Linked DNA regions of Homo sapiens. The protein of the gene in region 1 interacts with the protein of each later gene in a pairwise test. Each region holds a gene or a part of one and is shown in the gene's direction. Other genes may lie near its edges.

What was found.
Region 2: the proteins of STX12 (region 1) and AQP8 interact in binary tests that used the Homo sapiens proteins (3 or more experiments, as listed by UniProt).
Region 3: the proteins of STX12 (region 1) and STXBP5L interact in binary tests that used the Homo sapiens proteins (3 or more experiments, as listed by UniProt).

What each region holds. Positions count from the first base shown.
Region 1 is NC_000001.11:27,776,207-27,783,227, forward strand, and holds part of STX12 (syntaxin-12), read left to right. Parts: intron 1-7,021. UniProt on the Homo sapiens protein: SNARE promoting fusion of transport vesicles with target membranes. Together with SNARE STX6, promotes movement of vesicles from endosomes to the cell membrane, and may therefore function in the endocytic recycling pathway.
Region 2 is NC_000016.10:25,212,269-25,219,946, forward strand, and holds the start of AQP8 (aquaporin-8), read left to right. Parts: upstream 1-4,678; 5' UTR 4,679-4,777; coding exon 4,778-4,789; intron 4,790-4,926; coding exon of another isoform or gene 4,927-4,929; coding exon 4,930-5,177; intron 5,178-7,678.
Region 3 is NC_000003.12:120,903,676-120,911,204, forward strand, and holds the start of STXBP5L (syntaxin-binding protein 5-like), read left to right. Parts: upstream 1-4,529; 5' UTR 4,530-4,659; intron 4,660-5,001; exon of another isoform or gene 5,002-5,516; intron 5,517-5,895; 5' UTR 5,896-5,903; coding exon 5,904-6,092; intron 6,093-7,529. UniProt on the Homo sapiens protein: Plays a role in vesicle trafficking and exocytosis inhibition.

The sequences.
Region 1 (7,021 bases):
GTACATACTGTGTTCCAGGCAGTATGAAAAGTGCTTTACATACATTATCTTATTTTATAACAACTCTGAAGCACCAGTATCATTTCCATGTTATGTATTAGGAAACAAACTAAGAAAGGTTAAATAGTTGCCCTGCTAACAAATGACAATATCTGAATTTGAAACTAGGTCTCTTATGACCAGCAATTTGTCTTTTTATTACTTTTTATTAATATTACAGTTCTGGGCTGTGCTCAGTGGCTCACACCTGTAATCCCAGCACTTTAGGAGGCCAAAGAGGGAGGATTACTTGAGGCCAGGAGTTTGACACTAGCCTGGACAACATAGTGAGACCCCATCTCTACAAAAAAAAAGTTAAAAATTAGCCAGACATGGTAGCATGTGCCTGTAGTCCTAGCTACTCAGGAGGCTGAGGCTGGAGAATCTCTTGAGCCCAGGAGTTGGAGGCTGCAGTGAGCTGTGATTATGCCACTGTACTGCAGCCTGGGTGGCAGATCAATACTTTGTCTCTAAATAAATAAATTAAAAATAAATAAATCAATAACAGTGCTATAGCAGTTAACACTTCAGGTTTACAAGTATGCAAATAACTTGTTTTTTCACTCTCCAGAGGACACTCTGTGGGGGAAATACCTGAAGCCGTGGTGCTTTCTCTTCTCGTGGTGTGTTCATCTCCTCTGCCAGATTGTTAGCTCCTTTGAGTCAAGGGACATGACTTATTCATCTTTATATTTCCAGTACTTATCTCAGTCCCAAACATATGAAAGATTCATTGATCCACTATGCAACAAATATTCCTGGAGCACCTGCTGTGTGCTGGGGTGAAGCAGAACAAGAGATAAAATCCCTCCCCTGATTGTGTGTATATGTGTGTTTCTGTGTGCGGGGGGAGTATGTATACACACATACGTACATACACATATAAATAATGTCAAGTAATAATAAATGCTATGAAGAAAAAGCAGGGTAAGTGGGTAGAGAGTCAGGGAAGAGGGAGGGTGGGTGCATTATTTTAGTTGATCAAGGAAGGCATCTCTGAGGAGCTGACATTTGAGTGAGTAGACATGTGAATGAAATGAGCAAGAGCTGTGTGAGTAGCTGGGAAAGGCATTCTAGGTAGAGGGCAAGAGCAAGGACTTTGATGTGTTCAAAGAAGAGCAAGGAGGCTAGTTTGGCTGGAGTACCGTTAGAAAAGGGAGGCAGAATAGGAAAAGAGGCCAGAGAGGTAACCAGGGATCACATTATATAGGATCTTGATGCATAATAAATTGTATCAAATTGATTTGAATGAATGAGGCATTTCTACCATTTTGGAACTCTTCCTGCCTCTTTCCCCTTGTACTGTGTAGTACATACCATATCCTATGACCCTAGGCAGTGTGAGTTGAGATTCTTCCAGGCCGGACACGGTGACTCACGCCTGTAATCCCAGCACTTTGGGAGGCTGAGGCAGGCGGATCACAAGGTCAGGAGTTTGAGACCAGCCTGGCCAATATGGTGAAACCCTGTCTTTACTAAAAATACAAAAAAATTAGCCAGGCGTGATGGTGCACGCCTGTAATCCCAGCTACTTGGGAGGCTGAGGCAGGAGAATTGCTTGAATCCGGGAGGCGGAGGTTGCGGTGAGCCGAGATTGCGCCACTGCACTCTGGCCTGGATGACAGAGCGAGACTCAGTCTCAAAAAAAAAAGAAAAAAGAAAGAAATTCTTCCTTTGGAATTGTTTGGTGAGAAATGGGAAATCTGAAATTGATGGGATGACGTTGCATCTACTCAGTTATCAAGCTAGTGCCTATCCCCAAACCTCTCCAAGAGGCCAGCACACCCAAATATACCCTTAGAATATGAGCTCTCAGACATATATATTACCCACACACCCATACAGCCCTGCAAGGACTTGTACCCATTAAAAGTCTGAGAGCATAGTTATTCTTTTTTCTAAACTGTTCAGCCACAGATGTGGGGTTGGAATTGCTGAGCACATCAGCCTGAGATAAGGCAGCTCACTGCGTGGGTTGTTACAGGTACAGCTAAGGTTGACTGCCTGGTACAAGTGGTGATTATCAGTATGTGTTGGGTACAGAAGAAAAATATTTGACTTACTGTGGAACAAAGTGTCTGGGCAAGTATTGCTGAGGCAGATATAGCTGAAAACCTATTAGCCTCAAAGTTAACTCTGAAGGGATTAAAGAACAGCATTTCTGACTGGGCGAGGTGTCTCACGCCTGTAATCCCAGCACTTTGGGAGGCCGAGGCGATCGGATCACCTGAGGTCAGGCATTCGAGACCAGCCTGGCCAACATGGCGAAACCCTGCCTCTACTAAAAATCAAAAAGTAAGCCGGGTGTGATGGCAGGCGACTGTAGTCCTAGCTGCTCGGGAGGCTGAGGTAGGAGAATCGCCTGAACTGGGGAGGTGCAGGTTGCAGTAAACCAAGACCAAGATCGCTCCACTGCACTCCAGCCTGGGCAACAGAGCGAGATTCCATCTCAGGAAAAAAAAAAAAAAAAGAACAGCATTTCTGTTCTTTATGTTGCTAATTGATGTGATCTTGTTTACTAACAAAATAAGAAGAGTGGAGGTCTCACTCTGTCACCCAGGCTGGAATGCAGTGTGCAATCGTAGTCCACTGTAACCTCAAACTCTTGGGCTTTAGCGATCCTCTTACTTGAGTCTCCCAAATAGCTAGGACTACAGGCATATGCCACTGCGCCTGGCAAGTTGTAAAAGTTTTTTAGAGACGGGGGTCTCGCTGTGTTGCCCAGGCTGGTCTTGAATTCCTGACCTCAAACCATCCTCCCACCTCAGTCTCCCAAAGCAAGAAGAGTTGAACATTTAAAATTGATTATTATGAAATCCTTGGGGTTCCACTTTCAAAGTTATTTTCATGTTTGCCCCTTATTTTTTATGTTTCTTTGCTATCCTCTTAAGTATTCATCAGCTCAACATCTGTATTTCAACAGCATATTCATAGTGTCTCTGATTATGGTCTTGCCCCATTCTAGTTTATACTGATGGTGCTATCAGCACTATGTCTAAAGTCCTGTTTTTATTATACTGCTCACTTCCTCAAGAGCCTAAAGTGGCTCTCTGTTGTCTATTGAATCAGATGGTTTTTTTTGTTTTTGTTTTTTTTTGTTTTTTTTTGAGCCAAGTCTCACTCTGTCGCCCAGGCTGGAGTGCCATGGCGCAATCTTGGCTCACTGTAACATCCACCTCCTGGGTTCAAGCAGTTCTCCTGCCTCAGCCTCCCGAGTTGCTGGGATTACAGGACCTGCCACCACGCCCAGCTAATTTTTGTATTTTTATAGAGACAGGGTTTCACCATGTTAGCCAGGCTGGTCTCGAACTCCTGACCTCAGATGATCCACCTGCCTCGGCCTCCGAAAGTGCTGGGATTACAGGCATGAGCCACCGTGCCTGGCCTGAATCAGATCTTAATATTTCACCTTGCTTTCACTCCCTGCGATCTTAACCCAAATTAGCCATATTTTCTACTCTTCCTTACTCTTTGCTAGGAAGGCTATTTTCTTTATGTTTCTCAACTCTATCTTTCAGTTTATATTTTGCTCATTTGGTTCCTCCTTTTTTTTTTTAGAGAAAGAGAGTTTCGCTGTTGTTAACAGCCCAGGCTGCAATGCAGTGGTGCGATCTCGGCTCACCACAACCTCTGCCTCCCAGGTTCAAGCGATCCTCCAGCCTCAGCCTCCCGAGTAGCTGGGATTACAGGCGTGTACCACCACGCCCGGCTAATTTTGTATTTTTAGTAGACACAGGGTTTCTCCATGTTGGTCAGGCTAGTCTTGAACTCCTGACCTCAGGTGATCCGCCCGCCTTGGCCTCCCAAAGTGCTGGGATTACAAGCATGAGTCACTGCGTCCGCCCTTTGGTTCCTCCTTTTTTTAGTATCTTTTCTCTCCCTACCTCATTGGCTATCTAAATTATACAAATCCTCTCAGTTGTGCATAAGTCCTGCTGATAGCAATTAAGTTTTTCTTTGCTTGTTTTTTTTTTTTTTTTTTGAGACGGAGTCTTGCTCTGTTTCCCAGGCTGGAGTGCAGTGGGGCGATCAGGCTCATTGCAACTTCCGCCTCCCAGATTCAAGCAATTCTCCTGCCTCAGCCTCCCCAGTAGCTGGGATTACAGGCGTGCACCACATGCCCGACTAATTTTTGTATTTTTAGTAGAGACAGGGTTTCACCATGTTGGCCAGGCTGGTCTTGAACTCCTGACCTCAGGTGATCTGCCTGCCTTGCCCTCCCAGAGTGCTGGGATTACAGGCGCCCAGCCTTCCTTTGCTTTTGAAAGACAAAGTGAAGTCAGAAAGATCATGGACTCTCCGGGGTCAGCAGATCTGTGACTGAATCCCTCCCCTTCCATGTATTAACCTCGAGCAGGTTATTTTCCCTGCCGTGTGTAACCCCATTTATAAAATGAGTGAAATTATTAAAAGGGGATGTTTGAGGCTGGGCACAGTGGCTCACACCTGTAATCCCAGCACTTGGGGAGGCTGAGGCGAGTGGATCTCTTGAGCTCAGAAATTTGAGACCAGCCTGGGCAACTTGGCGAAACCCTGGCTCTACCAAAAATACAAAAATTAGCTGGGTGTGGTGGCACACACCTGTAGTCCCAGCTACTTGGGAGGCTGAGATGGGCAAATCGCTGATCGCTTGAGCCTGGGAAGCAGAGGTAGCAGTGAGCCGAGATCACGTCACTGCACTCCAGTCTGGGTGACAGAGTGAGACCCTGTCTCAAAAAAAAAAAGGGGGGATGTTTGAAAGTGTCTGGTATACTGCCTGCCTGGCACATAGCAGGCGTTCAATAAATGGTGACATTATTATTATTTTTATTATTTTGAGATGGAGTCTTGCTCTGTCACTCAGGCTGGAGTACAGTGGCGCAATCTCAGCTCACTGCAACCTCTGCCTCCCGGGGTTAAGCAATTCTCATGCCTCAGCCTCCTGAGTAGCTGGGATTACAGGCTCATGCCACCACGCCCAGCTAATTTTTGTATTTTTAGTAGAGACAGGGTTTCACCATGTTGACCAAGCTGGTCTCGAACTCCTGACGTCAGGCGATTTGCCCACTGCAGCCTCCCAAAGTGCTGGGATTATAGGTGTGAGCCACCACGACCAGCCCCAGTGGTGACATTATTAATACTTGTTGAATCCCTTGCCCTGCAATAGTTTAATAGTTAGGTAGGCAGGCTCAGGAGTCATATTGCCAGGATTTGAATCCTAGATCTGCTTCTTACTAGCTGTGTAAACACATTGCTTTACCTATTTCTCAGTTTCCTTATTGTTAAAATGGAGTTAATAATACCTATTTCATAGGGTTGTGATGATTAAATGAGATAATTCATCTACAGTCCCTGCTACATAGTAAGTGCTTAAGAAATGTTAGCTCTCATTTTGGTGTATTTCCTTTGAATTTATAATACAAGCAATTTTCCCTCACAGTTTAGCACGCACTTATATTATATATTCTTTAATTAATTCAAGCTTTTTGATATTGTCACCCCAAGCAGAGAGATCACTGTTAGTTTTGTGGAGACCATGCATTATACATTTGTCTTTAGTCACAGTGCCTGGAACAACAATGCATATATAGTTGGCATTCAATATGTACTTAATTGATTTTATTACTGCTAAGTACATTTTTCTTGGTCTTGAGTTTGATAATAATAGCTATCTTTAATTGAGTGCTTTTATGTGCCATTGTTCTAAATTTAGCTTCGTATCATCTCATTTCATCCTCACAACAACCATATGAAGATTCTCTTATTCTCATTTTTAAGGCAAAGAAACTAAGGCATAGAGGAGTGGAGCCTTTTACTCAAGATCACTTTGCTTGGAAGTAGCGGGACCACGACAAGCATAGGCATAAGCAGTGGTTTTTTGTTTTTTGTTGTTTTGAGAAAGGGTCTTGCTCTGTCACCCAGGATGTGCCAGTAGTACAGTGGTACCGTCATAGGTCACTGCAACCTTGAACTCAAGGGATCCCCCCACCTCCACCTTCCGAGTAGCTAGGACTACAGGCACGCACCACCACGTCCAAGTAATTTTTTAATTTTTTGTAGAGACGGGCTCACTTTGTTGCCCAGGCTGGTGTCAAACTCCTGGGTTCAAGTGATCCTCCCACCTTGGCCTCCCAAAGTGCTGGGGTTACAAACTTGAACCACCATGCCTGGCCATATAGGCGGTCTTAATTCAGAGCTATGCTCTTAACCATTGCATATTCTGAAACTGGTATGGTTAAAGGAAAATTATACCTTTGATATTTAGTATCCATTTTCACTTTAGTCTAGAACTTTACTGTTATGGTACAGTGGCTATTTTTTAAAGTCAGGTTGATGGACACGGTGACTCACACCTGTAATTCCAGCACTTTGGGAGGGCAGGGTGGGCAGATCGCCTCAGGTCAGGAGTTCGAGACCAGCCTCGCTAACATGGTGAAACCCTGTTTACTAAAAATATACAAATTAGCCCGGCATGGTGGTGGGCACCTGTAATCCCAGCTACTTGGGAAGCTGAGACAGGAGAATCACTTGAACCCAGGAGGTGGAGGTTGCAGTGAGCTGAGACCGTGCCATTGCACTCCAACCTGGGCAAAGAGAGCAAAGCTCTGTCTCAAAAAAATGAAACATTTTTTAAAAAAGGTAATTTTCATTGTAGTGATATAAAAACAGAATGTAAACCTAATTTTCAGAGTAAAACACTGAGATGACTTCATTTTCATAATCACCACATAGGCTATCATTTTCTCATTTGGTGTAAATAATGTTTTTTTGTTGTTGAATTTGTTTAAAATACTGACTTAGAGCATTCGATCCTGTCAAATGAAGAGAAATCTTTTTCCCACCTCTGATGATAGTTACTTTCAATATAATTTGACTTTGATTTGACTTTGCTTTGGATGAAGGTTCATTTGGAGATTCAGATTCTGCCGATATCAGCTTAAAGTACAAAAAGAATTTTCAGTTTAGAGTAGTTCCTAGTGTGGATGTTAGCTGTAATGTATAA
Region 2 (7,678 bases), on another chromosome or scaffold:
TCTTTTTCTTTCCTTTTTTTTTTCTTTTTTTAATTAAGACGGACTCTTGCTCTGTTGCCAAGGCTGGAGTGCAGTGGTGCAATCTTGGCTCACTGCAATCTCCACCTCCCGTGTTCAAGCAATTCTCCTGCCTCAGCCTCCTGAGTAGTTGGGACTACAGGCGCGTGCCACCATGCCCGGCTAATTTCTTGTATTTTTAGGAGAGATGGGGTTTTACTGTGTTAGCCAGGATGGTCTCGATCTCCTGACCTTGTGATTCACCCGCCTTGGCCTCCCAAAGTGCTGGGATTACAGGCATGAGCCGCTGCACTGGCCTAGTTTTGGAGTTATGGAATCCAACCTTGCCTTGAGCAAGGGAAGGGTGTTTTTAGAGGACCAATAGGTAGTTTGCCCAGGCATCAGAGAGGACATAATATCTGATCTGAGATCTGAATGAGGAGTAGAAGTTGGCCAAGAGGGCAAACAAGGACTCCAAACAGAGGGACTGGCATGGACAAGGCCGGGTGAGGGTACATAGCTTATCTGATAAATTGTTTAGGGTTCATGTGGCAAGAGATGATTCAGGGGCTAGGAACTGAAGTCTCTGTGGCTAGCTAAGGGAGTCTGGGTTTGTCTTGGAACCATGGGACACACTGAATGATTTAATTCAGGGAAAAACTCAACTAGAACCATGGTCTCTGGGAAAGCAACAATTTCTAGTATGTGGCAGAAATTGCTCGATATTCATAAAATGCCTTTCTTTTTCCTCCTGGGCACAGGGCTAGACTACAATTCCCAGGCTCGATTGCAGTCAGGTGAAGCCACGTGACTGAGTTTGAGCCCATCAAATATAGGTGAGAGGGATATATGGTATTTCTAGGCCTAGCCCATAATAATTTCCTGCACAGCCCTCCACATTCTCTTTTTCCCATTTTGCTGGAGAAGATCTGAGGACCTAGATGGGGCAGCTCCAAGATGGAAGTGGCCTGGATCCCTGAGTCACCATTTGGAGACGAGCCTGTCATGGACTATTATGTGAGCAAAGAATCCATTTTTTGGGGGGTGGGGGGGTGGGATGGAGTGTCGCTCTGTGGCCCAGGCTGGAGTGCTGTGGTGTGATCTCGGCTCGCTGCAACCTCCGTCTTCCAGGTTCAAGCGATTCTCCTGCCTCAGCCTCCTGAGTAGCTGGGATTACAGGCGTGTGCCACCATGCCCAGCTAATTTTTGTATTTTTGGTAGAGATGGGGTTTCACCATGTTGGTCAGGCTGGTCTTGAACTCCTGACCTTGTGATCTGCCCGCGTTGGCCTCCCAAAGTGCTGGGATTACAGGTGCGAGCCAGTGCATCCAGCTTAGTTTTTCTTTGTTCAAGGGACTAAGCAAGAACAGATGAAGGCATGGGTGAAAACAAGAGAGAATTATTCTGGAAGCAGTACTGGCAGGATTTGAGCAAATAATGAGGGGGATGGGGAAGCCTTGGGTCAGACTATCTTATGTTGCTATTTATAGGATGTGGAAGGAAGGGTCTAAGAAACATCTTGTATGATGTGCTGTGGGATATGGAGGAGGTAGAGAACAGGGCTAAAAATAACCTTCCTAGAGGTGCAGATATTTGGCAGAGACCCTGTATTCCTGGGCCTCTCGCTGACATGGGCTGTCAACAAACTGTCACGCTCTTCTCTAGATATGTCCACTTCTGTCCTGAAGCAGATATTTTTATGTACACAGCCATGGGTGAGTTCTTAACTTCTTTGTGCCTCGTTTTTATCATCTGAAGATGGTGATAATAAGTGATAGGACTTATCTCAAAGGGGTTTACGAATATATACCGAGTGTTTAGCATGGTGTTGGAGATGTAGTGAGTAGTTGAGAAATGTCAGAAATGAGCATTAAAATTCCGTTAGCTCTAGCTTGACTTCTCTATCAGTGCATACAAACACTCAAAGATAAAGCTATGAGACAGAGCAGGATTTTGCCTGTCTTGTTCACTGCTACATCTCCAGCCAGCTTAGAACAGTGACTGGCTTGCAGCAGCTATTTAAATGTTTGGTGAGTGAATGAATGAATAAGGAACTCATCTCATTTTCTTTCCTTCCTCCTTCCTTTCTCCCTTCCTTCCTCCCTCCCTTCCTTTCTTTCTTCCCTTCTTTCCAACCATCCATCCATCCATCCATCCATTCATCCATCCACCCACCCATCTATCCATCCATCCATCCATCCATCCATCCATCCACCCACCCACCCACCCAACCATCTATCTATCCATCCATCCATCCACCCATCCATCCATGCATCCACCCATCCATCCACTTATCCATCCATCCATCCATCCATCCATCCATCCATCCATCCATCTCTCTTAGAAAGGCAGTAGAGTGTAGTGGGTTAGCTCACAAGTATTTTTTTTCAATTGTGGCAAGATACACATAAAATAAAATATGCCATTTTAACCTTTTTTTTTTTGAGATGGAGTCTCATCCTCTCACCCAGGCTGGAGTGTAGTGGTGTGATCTCAGCTCACTACAACCTCTGCCCCCCAGGTTCAAGCGATTCTCCTGCCTCAGCTTCCCAAGTAGCTGGGATTACAGGCGTGCACCACCACACCCAGCCAATTTTTGTATTTTTAGTAGAGACAGGGTTTCACCATGTGGCCAGACTGGTGTCAAACTCCTAAAATCAAGTGATCCTCCTGCCTTGGTCTCCCAAAGTGCTGAGATTACAGGTGTGAGCCAAGCACACCCAGCATTTGGAACCATTTTTAAGTGTACATTTCAGTGACATTAAGTACTTCACATTGTTGTGCCACTGTATCATCCATCCCAAAACTTTCCTCCCAAACAGGAAATCTGTACCCGCTAAACACAAACTCTTCATTCTCCCTTCCCCTCGGGCCGTGGAAACCACCATTCTACTTCTGTCTCTATGAATTTGACTAGTCTAGGTACTTCATACAAGTGGAATCAGATACAGTATTTATCCTTTTGTGACAGCCCACAAGTTCTGTGATCATATAAGCTGTGTAATCTTGGGAAACTCAATCTTCCTGACACTCCACTTCCTCGTCTGTGAAATGGTTGTAATAATAGTACCTGCTTCACAGGGTGGCAGTGAGGTTTAAATGAGATAATAGAAGGCACTTAGCCCCAGTGCCTGGCACATAGAAAGTGCTCACTATTAGCTATTAGTTACAGCTAAGCATGTATTGTAAATTAGTGGACACTGGTATTGTGTGTCTAGCACTGTCCTGAGCACTTTACCCGTATTATCTCATTTAAACTTCCCAACGACCCTATGACATGGTGAAACCACTAACATCCACACCTAACAGATGAGAAAACAAAGGCCCAGAGAGGCCAAGTCATGTGCCCAAGGGTTACATAGCTAGTTTACAGCAGAGCTGGGATTGAACGCCAGGCAGCCTATTTCCAAAGTTCATGGGTCTTGCCGCTGCATTGCATTACCTCTTGCCAGTCTCTGCTGCCTCTGTCTGTGAAGGATCGTCATCTATACACTCAGTCCTGGCTCAGGCTGTCACGGTGACTGCAGGTGTTTGAAGCTGTGGGACTCATTGGAAAAATAATTGAAAATGGGATTGCTGTTTCTTTCTTTTCTTTTTTCTTTCTTTCTTTCTTTTTTTTTTTTTTTTTTTTAGACAGGGTCTCACTCTGAGGCTGAAGTGCAGTGGCGCGATCTTGGCTCACTGCAACCTCTGGGTCCTGGGTTCAAGTGATTCTCATGCCTCATCCTCCTGAGTAGCTGGGATTACAGGCAAACACCAACACGCCCTCTCTTTCTTTCTCCTTCCTTCCTTCTTTTCTTTCTTTTTCTTTTTTCTTTCTTTCTTTCTTTCTTTCTTTCTTTCTTTCTTTCTTTCTTTCTTTCCTTCCTTCTTTTCTTTCTTTCTTTTTCTTTCTTTTTCTTTCTTTCTTTCTTTCTTTCTTTCTTTCTTTCTTTCTTTCTTTCTTTCTTTTTCTTTCTTTCTTTCTTTCTTTCTTTCTTTCTTTCTTTCTTTCTTTCTTTCTTTCTTTTCTTTCCTTTCTTTCTTTCTCTGTCTTTCTTTCTTCTTTCTCTTTCCTTTTTTTTTTTTTTCAGAGCCTTGCTCTGTTGCCCAGGCTGGAGTGCAGTTGCACAATCTTGGCTCTGCGCAATCTTCGTCTCCCAGGTTCAAATGATTTTCCTGCCTTAGCCCCCCAAGTAGCTGGGATTACAGGCGTGCACCACCACGCCCGGCTGAGTTTTGTATTTTTAGTAGAGACGGGGTTTCACCGTGTTAGCCAGGATGGTCTCAATCTCCTGACCTCGTGATCCACCTGCCTCGGCCTCCCAAAGTGCTGGGATTACAGGCGTGAGCCACTGCACCTGGCTGTTTGCTGTTTCTTAACATGTGAGGTTCCAACCCAGTGGGGCCCACTAACATGTGCTGTTCTGCTTTGGACCGTGGGGAGCTGGGGTGCTGGACCCATCTCCCACCTTCTACAGCCTGGAGTGTGCTCCCAGATGACACAGCCAAGCTGGCGTGTTTTTCCCTCACTGGCGGAAAGTTCAGCAATCCCTGACTCCCTCACCCTGCCCTGTTGAGATTTAAAAAAATTTCCTCTTCTGGGCCTCAGAGCCGCCTCCTACCTGAGGTTTATTGCTTTCTCTGCACCAGCATTGAGCCTCTGCAGCCCTTTAAAAGGGGCAGAGCCCATAGTGTGATCAGCAGGTCCTGTCCCTAGGAGATAAGAGTATCTTGCACAGCAGGTGCAGGTTTCCCAGCAGCTCAGGCAAGAGTCCGATGTTTGTGCCATCTGATCCTGATGTCTGGAGAGGTGAGCCCTCTGTCGGCATCTTCCTCTCCAGGCTGGCAGAGCAAGGGGGGCTGTGAATTAATTCAAGGTTGGGGGTCGGGGCCTTCTATATCTGGACTTGCCTCCCACCCGTGTCCTCTGTCCCTTTTTCCCTACGGCAGATAGCCATGTGTGAGCCTGAATTTGGCAATGACAAGGCCAGGGAGCCGAGCGTGGGTGGCAGGTGGCGAGTGTCCTGGTACGAACGGTTTGTGCAGCCATGTCTGGTCGAACTGCTGGGCTCTGCTCTCTTCATCTTCATCGGGTGCCTGTCGGTCATTGAGAATGGGACGGACACTGGGCTGCTGCAGCCGGCCCTGGCCCACGGGCTGGCTTTGGGGCTCGTGATTGCCACGCTGGGGAATATCAGGTGAGACCAGCTCTGAGGATTCAGCCTGATGCTGACTTGGGGCACTGGGTGTGGAAAGCAAAGGCGTTGTCAAGGACCCCTGGGCGCATACGTATTCGGGATTTCAAGGAGCGCTCTGGATAACTATGGGGTTGGGAGTCAGACTGGGGTCAACTCCAGACCCCGCAGCCTGTGAGCTTGTGACTTTGAGCAAGTCATTCTCTTTTTGAGTAGCTGGATCACAGGCATGCGCCGCAGCACCCAACTAATTTTTAAATTTTGTTGTAGAGATGGGGTCTCACTATGTTGCCCAGGCTAGTCTTGAACTCCTGGTCTCAAGCGATCCTCCTGCCTTGGCTTCCCAAAGTTTTGGGATTACAGGCATGAGACACCATGCCTGGCTGGCAAGTTACTCTCTAAACCCAAAGTTCCCCGCCTATAAAATGGGAATAGTAGCTTTTAAATGTTTTTTTTTTCAAGCCAACATATCTATATTGCTAACCATGTACCAGGCACTAGTCTAATTACTTTATAGATATTAGTTATTTAATCCTCACAAAAGCCTTGTGGGGTAGGTCCTGTTATTAGCCCCATTGTACAGCTGCAAAAGTGAAAGGCCATGTAATCTGTCCAAGCTTAGAGGGCCAGAAAGTGGCAGAGGCGGGAGTCAAGAACAAGCTGTCTGGCTCCAGCGCTCAAATCCAAGTGCCTCATGCGGAAGTCATGAGAATTAAATGAAGTAGAGCGCCTGGCACACACCAAACATACAACAGGCATTGGTTGCTGTGTTATTGTTACCACTAGAAGGGGGTTTTAGGGAAAGCAGAAATGCATAGAAGACCTGAGCCAGGTTTTCCCACCTGGGTATGCAGAGATCTGCAGTGGTCCTGGCTTGTCAAGAGGTGATCAAGAAGGAGGGGCAGGGAAAGGGACAGGCTTCTCTGGCTTAGCTCTCGTCTGGGTAGAGGCTCAATGGGGAGGTCTGTGGACATGGCTGCTGGTTCCCAGGAGAGCCAGCCATCACGACGAAGATCTTGAGTGGGGTGCCTGGCAGGGTGATCTGGGACATGGTTGGTCTGTATTAAATCTCACTCAAAAAATAGATCTGAATGAGGAAACAGAAATACTATTTCTGAGAAAACCAGAATGGAAAAGAGCTTTAACATCTCTTTAGGCCGGGTGCAGTGGCTCACGCCTGTAATCCCAGCACTTTGGGAGGCTGAGGCGGGTGGATCACCTGAGGTCAGGAGTTGGAGAGCAGCCTGGCCAACAGGGTGAAACCCTGTCTCTACTAAAGATACAAAAATTAGCTGGGCGTGGGGGCAGGCACCTGTGGTCCCAGCTACTTCGGAGGCTGAGGCAGGAGAATTGCTTGAACTGGGAGGGAGAGGTTGCAGTGAGCCGAGATTGTGCCACTGCACTCCAGCCTGGGCAACAGAGTGAGACTCCATCTCCAAAAAACAAACAAACAAACAAACAAACAAAAAACAAACCACATCTCTTTAGACGTCCAAGGGAGGCTGCAAGTGAAACAAAAAGTACATGATCTTCCCTTTGGACGGATCTGAGATTGAAGGCAACCTTTATCACTTCTTAGCAGGGTGACCACAGCAAGTTGCTGAAGCCTCTGTGTGCAGTGGTATAAATATGAGTAATAATAATAGCTGATGTTTTTTGAATGCTAACTACATAGATACTACTATGGGCTGTACAAATATTAATTCTTAATATCTTTGCAATAGCTTTATCAGGCAGAGATCATTGAGGCACAGAGAGGTTATGTAACTTTGCCAATGCCACACAGCTCTTCAGTGGCAGAGTTGAGCTTTGAACCCAGGCCAGCTGGCTGGAAAGACCATCTCTTTGGCACTGCAAATACTGCCTCTCTGTTTGGCTTTTTTGACAAATATTTATTCAGCACCTATTGCGTGCCAGACACTGACTTTGAGGTTGTTCACTGGATCCAGGATAAGCTATGTATGTAAGTTATAAGCACCCAGCACAGCCCCTGGCACACAGTAAGTGTCAGAGAAATATATGCTGAGTGAACAATGAATGAATGAATGAATGTGTCTTGATTGTTTTATTGCTAATGAGTGTAAACCAGGAAATGTGTGGTTTTCGTCACCTGGCCCTCCTGATAGAGCCATGCTCTGGGTGACAGTTTCTCTCCCCTTTGGGGCTCCCCTGGGAAGCCGCCTCACCCTGACTTCATCTGTGTATCTCAGCAGAGCCCAGGCTAAGCTACTTGAGGCCAAGTAGGCCTGGCTGCCCCTCTTCCCAACCTGTGGAGTCTGAGCACTGGCTGGTGCTTTCAAACCATGCATGGAGGTCAGGCGCAGTGGCTCACGCCTGTAATCCCAGCACTTTGGGAGGCCGAGGCAGGTGAATCACCTGAGGTCAGGAGTTCGAGACCAACCTGGCCAACATGGTGAAACCCCGTCTCTACCAAAAATACAAAAATTAGCCGGGCGTGGTGGCAGCCCCGTTATCCCATCTACTTGGGAGGCTGAAGCAGAAGA
Region 3 (7,529 bases), on another chromosome or scaffold:
TAGCTTGCCGTTCCCAAAGTCTTCCATTTCTAGTACTCAGTGCCCATGAACTCTCAAATGTCTTTTTAGTTCTAGTATCCAAATTCCTGAAGAGATATTTTCCATTTTTTTCTGTTTTGTTTTAACCTAATACTCGAATTTGTCATAATTAACTTTTCTAATATAAAACACCTTTATAAAGGGATTTCTCTGGGTCCTCAACAGAAAACTACTAGCGTGAGGAAAGAACTTTGGAGTAAGATTGAGATTAGTCCAAATTCTTGTTTCAAAACCTACCAGATGTATGATATTGGGCTTATTACTTAACCTTGCTTTGCTTCAGTTTTTTACCTGTAAAATGGAGTTATCTATAGCTACCATACATTATTGTTGTGAGGATTAAATGAGAAAATAAATGTAATTTTTTTTTTGAGATGGAGTCTCGCTCTGTCACGCAGGTTAGAGTGCAGTGGCGCGATCTCGGCTCACTGCAAACTCTGCCTCCTGGGTTCAAGCAATTCACCTGTCTCAGCCTCCCAAATAGCTGGGATTACAGGCTCCTGTCACCGTGCCCAGGTAAATTCTGTATTTTAGCAGAGACAGGCCACCATGTTGGCCAGGCTGGTCTCGAATTCCTGACCTCGTGATCCACCCACCCTGGCCTCCCAAAGTGCTGGGATCATAGGCGTGAGCCACCGCGCCCGGCCAATAAATGTAAATTTTTAAACACAATTCCAGCTCATAGTAGATGCTCTCCTCAAAGGATGTTGAATTTGATGATCTTATTGTCATGGGCTAAATTGTGTCTTCCCAAAATTCATATGTCAAAGCCCTAACCTTCAGTACCTCAGAATGGAAGCATATTTGGAGATAGGATATTTTAAAAGGTGATTAAGCCACAATGAGGCCATGAAGGTGGACTCTAACACAATCTGACTGGGAGCCTTATAAGAAGCGGAAATTTAGGCACATGGAGAAATCAACGAGGGATGTGAGCCCACAGAGAAAAGACCATGTAAGGCCACAGAGAGAAGGTGACTATCTGCAAGCCATTGAGAGAGCCTCAGAAGAAAATAAATCTGCCGATGCCTTGATCTTGGATTTCTAGCCTCCCAAACTGTGCTAAGTTCCTGTTTTTTAAGCTACCCAGTCTATGGTATTTTGTTATGGCAGTCCTGAAAGACTAATACACATACAATCACTATTTTAGGTGGAGAATTGACCCGCCACCTTTTTTTCTATTCTAGTTTCTATTTAATCTTCTAAATGGTATCAAATAATAAGGCACCGATTAAGAGCATGATCTTAGAAGTTAGACAGCTTTGAATTCGAAGACTGGATTATCCACCTAAGTGACCTTGGGTGAATTTCTTAAATATTTCTGAGCTCCAAATTTCCTCTTTCATAAAATGGGGACAATACCTATCTTATAGAGTTATAATAAGGATCAAGTTAAAAGAGTTGTATGTAAAGTTCATAGTACAATGTTTGACGTAGTGCTAAATAACTGGTAGAATTATTATTATCTCTATATACAATGGATTATTTACATATGGTTTTGTCAATTTTGCTTAGTTTTCTGTAACCCTAGCCAGTTAAATTTTCTTCTCTGTGTGAAGTGCCACACATGTACATACTTTCTACAATTATTTAATTATTTTGCAGGTGTGGAAAGGCAGCCTCTCTTAGCTTCATTGTTGGCTTGAGTCCAAAATCACGAACACTTAAAGTGAGTTGTAACATATTTTCAACACACATCCTAAAAATCCTTCTGATGTAGTAGATTTATTTAAATGCTTTGATGATTTTGCTCCATGGATCAAGCTGAAAGTATTTTTCTTTTTGCAGTTCTTCATACTTGTCATTTTAGGAAGAAATCAAGCCTTATTCAGAAGCTGTACCTCAGCCATTCCTCTCCACAAAGTATTCTTCCAGTTTGCAGTGAATGATAAGGGGTCATCATTATTATTACCCGATCCAACTCTGAAGTTTCTCACATTATTTATAAAATATATGCTGTGGTCTGGTCTCATTGCTGTTAATAGATGGTTTATAAAATAACATCTTATTGCTTTTTAATTAATCCAGGATGAAATTTACTTCCATAGATATTTCATTATGCTTCTCTCACCTAGTAAGATTTTTAGGCTATTGTTTCTGCTGTCTCCTCATACACACAATGTACTCTGCCTCTTGCTTAATTCTATCCTTTGCTCACAGTTTGTGAATTGGCATCACAATATCCTGTGTGCACAGGCTCTCTGAGACTGCAATTATGTTATGATTTTTACTTGCTGCCATTCATTCAAATTAATATTCACTGGGCACTTACTATGTAGAAGACATTATGCTATTCACTGTGGAGGAACACAGATATTTGAAATAATCCCAAATAGTCCACAATCTAAGCATCCTAATGATCATATTTTTTTAGGCTTCCAATATTTATTTGGAAACATGAATACATTTTGACTTGGCTTTTCTCCCACTTCCTATACCTATTTGTTGTCCCATCTAACTCAGGCAGTCCATTGAATTCTCTCCAGGGTCCTCAAGAAGGATCTCTGTCAATCTTTTGTGTACTTTTTTCCTCAGCTCTCCCCCAATTTTTAGAATAAAGACCATCATTTAGTTTGTGATAATATGGTGCTAGTGATGATCAGTTTAAGAGGTTTTGTTTGCAAACATTACATCTCACTTTGCTGAATTGGGGCTATTCTCCTTCTTCGCTCCCATCAAAATGTCAAACCACTACTTGCTATAGGCTTGCTTTCATTTATTAGAAAAATGAAAACTCAGCCACTTTATTATAACCCTCCTTGCCTCTGTTTTTAAAAAGAAAAGACAGACATAAAACAAGGAAAGCAAACTCTTTATCCTTAACTAGCGTCCATACTTTGAGGTGAGCAATGGGCCAGGAAGAAGAGAAGAAAAAAGGTGGAAAAGAGTAAAAAGATACCTGTTGTTAGGGACCCAATACAGAATTTGGAACCCTACCAAGATCTAGTTTGTGTCAGACATATCACTTATTTCCACCATTATTTTTACCCCTTTCAAACATTATGTAATTGGGTACCAACTCATATATCTTTAATAAAAAATATTAATAAACCAACTCTTCAGAACCCTTTACGTGCCTATTTTAAGTGAAATATTGTGCCTGGTGCTAAATAATCTAGGAGAAATATACAATTCCATGCTTGCCTTCAAGAAGGTTACTGTCTAGCTGTGGCAATGAGAGACTACCAGCAGTGTAGGGAGTCCCAAAAGGAGTGAAATAGTCATTCAGGACAGAAAGATTCAACGTTGAGCTGAGGATCTGAAAAACTGAGCTCTATTTCATCTTTACCATTTCTTTGCTATGTCCTTGGACAAGTCATCATCCTTCAAGTCTCCTGCTTCCTCCTTCCCACTCTCTCCCTTGATTGAGAGAAAAGAGAGAGAGAGAAGAGGAGAGGTGAAAAAGAAGAAAAAGAAGAAAAGAAAAAAAGAGGTCAAAGATTGTAAGATGTAAGACAATATTTGAAATGATCACTAATGAGTTCTGTTGTGATGCCCAAATTGAAGTCTCAGTTAGCTGTGACCCGCTGAACTGCCATTCATTTCGCAAAGACATCGGGGTCCAAATTTTCCCGAAGTCAATAGCAGGTGAGGGCTCAGAACCAAATCTATCCTGATACAGTTTTTTTTTCTGCACTGAATAATACATCTTTCAAAATGATTATTGTGACTCACAGAAATAGCTTAAAATATATTCTTGATACGGTTTACAGAGTGAGAAATATTTCTTTAAAGAAATTAAATATCTTTGTATATGTGAGGATGATGGGGAAGGAGTAATTCTACTTACTAGAGAGCAAGGTAAGCAATCAATTCCTTAGGCTCTAGAAGGCTATATATTCTGAAACTGTTGAAATACAATTCTCCTTGGCAGATACGAACCATTAAGCCATTATTGGTAACAGCAGGGGTTAATCACAGATACAAGTTGAGTGCAGGTAGCAGGAGAGTGATGGGAGCCAGATAGATGCTCCTGAAGACCGGGAAGAGGCTCGCAGAAGTGAAAAGGTGCAAAACACTTGCTCAGTTCACCATACTGTCCAGAGCCATACCTAAGGTAAGCAACGCTTCCCGCATCCTCAGACTCCAGGCGTCCAAATTCGCACGCTTGCAGGCATTCTATTGATTCACACTTGAGTCCTTCAACAGGTAGCGCCAATTACATCCCCCAGAGCACGACCCCCAGCATACTGGCCAATACCGCTGTCAATCAAATACCTCACCTACTTCTCTAAATTCCCCCCTCCCACTGTCATTGGCTTTACCTTCGGCCTATCCACAGATTTCTTCTGCCCTGGAGACCACAGAACTTACCCTATCGAATCTAGGATTGGCGCCGAAGCTACTCCCGCCCTTTGACGTCCCCGGGCACCCCGCCCCCTTCACCTCCCAGCTTTGCCGGGGAAGAAGCAGGGCGGGGCAAGCTAGGGGCCGGCCCGGGGGCGGGGCCTGCCTCCCACGGCGGGAGGGCGGAGCCTGCTCTGGAGCCTGACTGCTCGGTTAGGACCTCGGAGAGCGCCAGGCGCCGCGACCAGAGGGCCCAGAGAAGCGGCCGGAGCCCGCCTACCTCGGCCCCCTCAGCTTCCCGGGCTGGCAGGCGGCTAGAGGCGTCTGAGGAAGGTGCCTAAGTCCTGGGTCAGATAGTCATCCCTCTGGGACGCCGCCGCCGCTGCCGCCGTCCAGCTGTGGCTCCCTCGCACCTGTGTGTGTCTGTGTGAGTGTGTGTGTGTGTTTGAGAGAGAGAGAGACAGAGAGAGACAGAGACAGAGAGCGAGCGCACCAGCGCGCGAATGCCCGTGTGAGGGTGTTTGTGTGTGTTCTGGCTGGGAGCGCGAATGCCTCGGCGTGAGGTGTTTGTGTGTTCGCGCGCCCGCGGGCGGGCGAGAGCCCCGCGCCTCAGCGCTGGGCCTGGGGGAGGGACAGCGGGAGCGGCGGCTCTGCGCGCCCAGCAGGCTGAGGCGGGACTCGGGCCGCAGCCGTCGCCGCCACCGCTTCACGTCCCCCGAGAGCGGCTGCCGTGCAGCGGGGAGAGCGGACGGCGGGCGGGCGAACAGGCGGGAGAGCGCGGCGGCGGCTGCGGGCAGAGGTGGAGGGAGGGGAGCAGGAGATGGGGAGAGGGGGGAAAGAGGACGCGGGGAGGGAGATGAGGGGGAGGTGAGGGGGAGGCGGAGGGACAAGTGGAAACAGACGGTGTCGCCGTTCTCCTCCTCCCCCCCTCCCCGGCAGCTGTTGCTGTGGGTCACTCGCAGATGTTTTGGGGTCCGGGCTGCTGGGGGATGGGGACTAGAAAAAGTACCCCCCTCCCCGCCTTTCATAGTGACAAAAAAGGAAGCGTTGAAGCTGATGGGGGAAGAGCCCGGAAGGTGGTGGCAGAGTAAATACCGGCTCCCCCAACGTCGTTTTTCTGAAAATAAAATACTCTGAGCCGAACGTTTCGAAGAAGGAAAGTCCGCCCTTAAGAGAGAGACAGAGTCTTGGTCTGTTGAACTCTGGTTTGATTGTATAATAATGATGATATAATGCTAATGACGATGATGACACTGCCTTTTATTTTTACCCCAGTGCTGATAAAGCGTAGTTACAGCTGGGGATACAGTCCTTGAAAATCTGATGTGTGAGGAGGGAATACTGTTGCTTTTGGAGTTGTGTTATATTTATCTTTTTTTAAAAAGGATATGCTTTTTAGAATTAAAATTTGGCAAAACGAATCCTGACTCTTTTTTTCCAGTCGGTCGTAACCAATGCTCATAAAATGGGGACTGACTTGACTAATGAAAAGAGAAAGGCTTTTACCAAGGTCTAATTGCACGTGTTAAGTCACCTCTTTCCCTTTTTTTCCTTTGTATTTCTCAACAGTGTTTAAAATGAAGAAGTTTAATTTCCGAAAAGTTTTGGATGGCTTAACTGCCTCCTCCCCTGGCAGTGGTAGCAGCAGTGGCAGTAACAGTGGTGGTGGGGCTGGAAGTGGTTCCGTACATCCGGCGGGGACTGCAGGGGTTCTCAGAGAGGAAATTCAGGAAACTTTGACTTCGGAGTATTTCCAGATTTGCAAGGTAAGTTTTGAATTGGCTTAAAGCCTATTATTTCTTTATTATACTGTTGTAAGGAAACAAGGGGGGAAAAACATACCAGGAACAGGAAACTGTTGAGATGTCAGCATCAGAGTCTGCTGCAGAAAGCTCTGTGGGTAGATCAGTTTGGCTTAATAGATATTTTAGGCGTCAACTTAAAAAGCAATGATAGTTTAAGTGGGAAATGAGCACACACAAAAAGTAGAATTTGCAAGATAATGTTAAGATCCAATAGTGGACAAAATTTTTAATATTTGTGTATTATATTAACTGAAGAAGCAAATAGTCGTTTGGTTTTTTGTGTTATCAGAGAAAATATTGTTATTTCACTGTTCAGTATGAAATGAATAAAGCTACTAGCATGTTGCTAGGATTAAGTAGATAATAGGAAAATATGTTCATTTTAAGGGGGCCAATGACATTGCTTTAAAATTCCGAATAAAAACACCTTCACATTCTTAAACTCTTCATAAATACACAAACAGACAAATGCACAGGCTTATAAGAACTTGCAGTTGTAGGAACTCAAAAATAGCGGGTGTTCTGGTTTAGTAAGAAAACATTTTATGTAATTATACTTTGATATTGAACTTCTAATGAATATGCAAAAGAGAGTTTCTGGTAGGTAGAGAAGATGAGAGTTTATAAAACAAGCATTAGGTTAATGCATAGAGATATTGTTATTGCTATATTTGTTATATTTTATGACATAAAGTGATTTATAATTTTATTGCCCTTTTTTGAGTTGTCTTGGAATGTGCCTATTATATGCAACAAAGGCTACTAAGTTATTTATGTCATATAAATGAATATAGTTTTGTAAATGTGTTTGGCTACATAAGAAATAGAAAAATTGCAAAATTACAGAAATTAACAATTTTTAAAAATACTTTCACAAAAGAAAAGTTTTTTGAAATTATTAAAATTATATTTGTGGTAAACAAGTGATATATGTATAATGAGGTATATTTCAATCACTGTCTCAGCCTATATTCCTAGCAGGGTCATTATAAAAACATTAAATCTATAGTTATTAGTTTACATAAAAGCAAGTTTATTTAGAGTTAATTTAGATAAACAGATTTAATTCTAAGCTACTTTGTGAAATTTGTGTACAGTAATAATTTTTTTCCTCAATAGGAAATAACAGATATTCTGTTCGATGAGGGAAGGTCTTAACAGTGGTTATGAGACAAATGTAAAAGAGTCCTGGAGTTCAAATTTGAACTGCTAGGCAGGGGAATTATGCCCTGATTCTCTAATCTTTGATGTGTTTGCAATTTTCACGATCAGATTCTGAAAATTTTTTCCAAATTCTCTCAATTCATGTATATGACAGTGATACAGGAGAATTTTACCAGAGGTAAAACTGGTATAGGAAAGATAGACTTCTGAAACAGAATGGCATTGGGCTGTTGA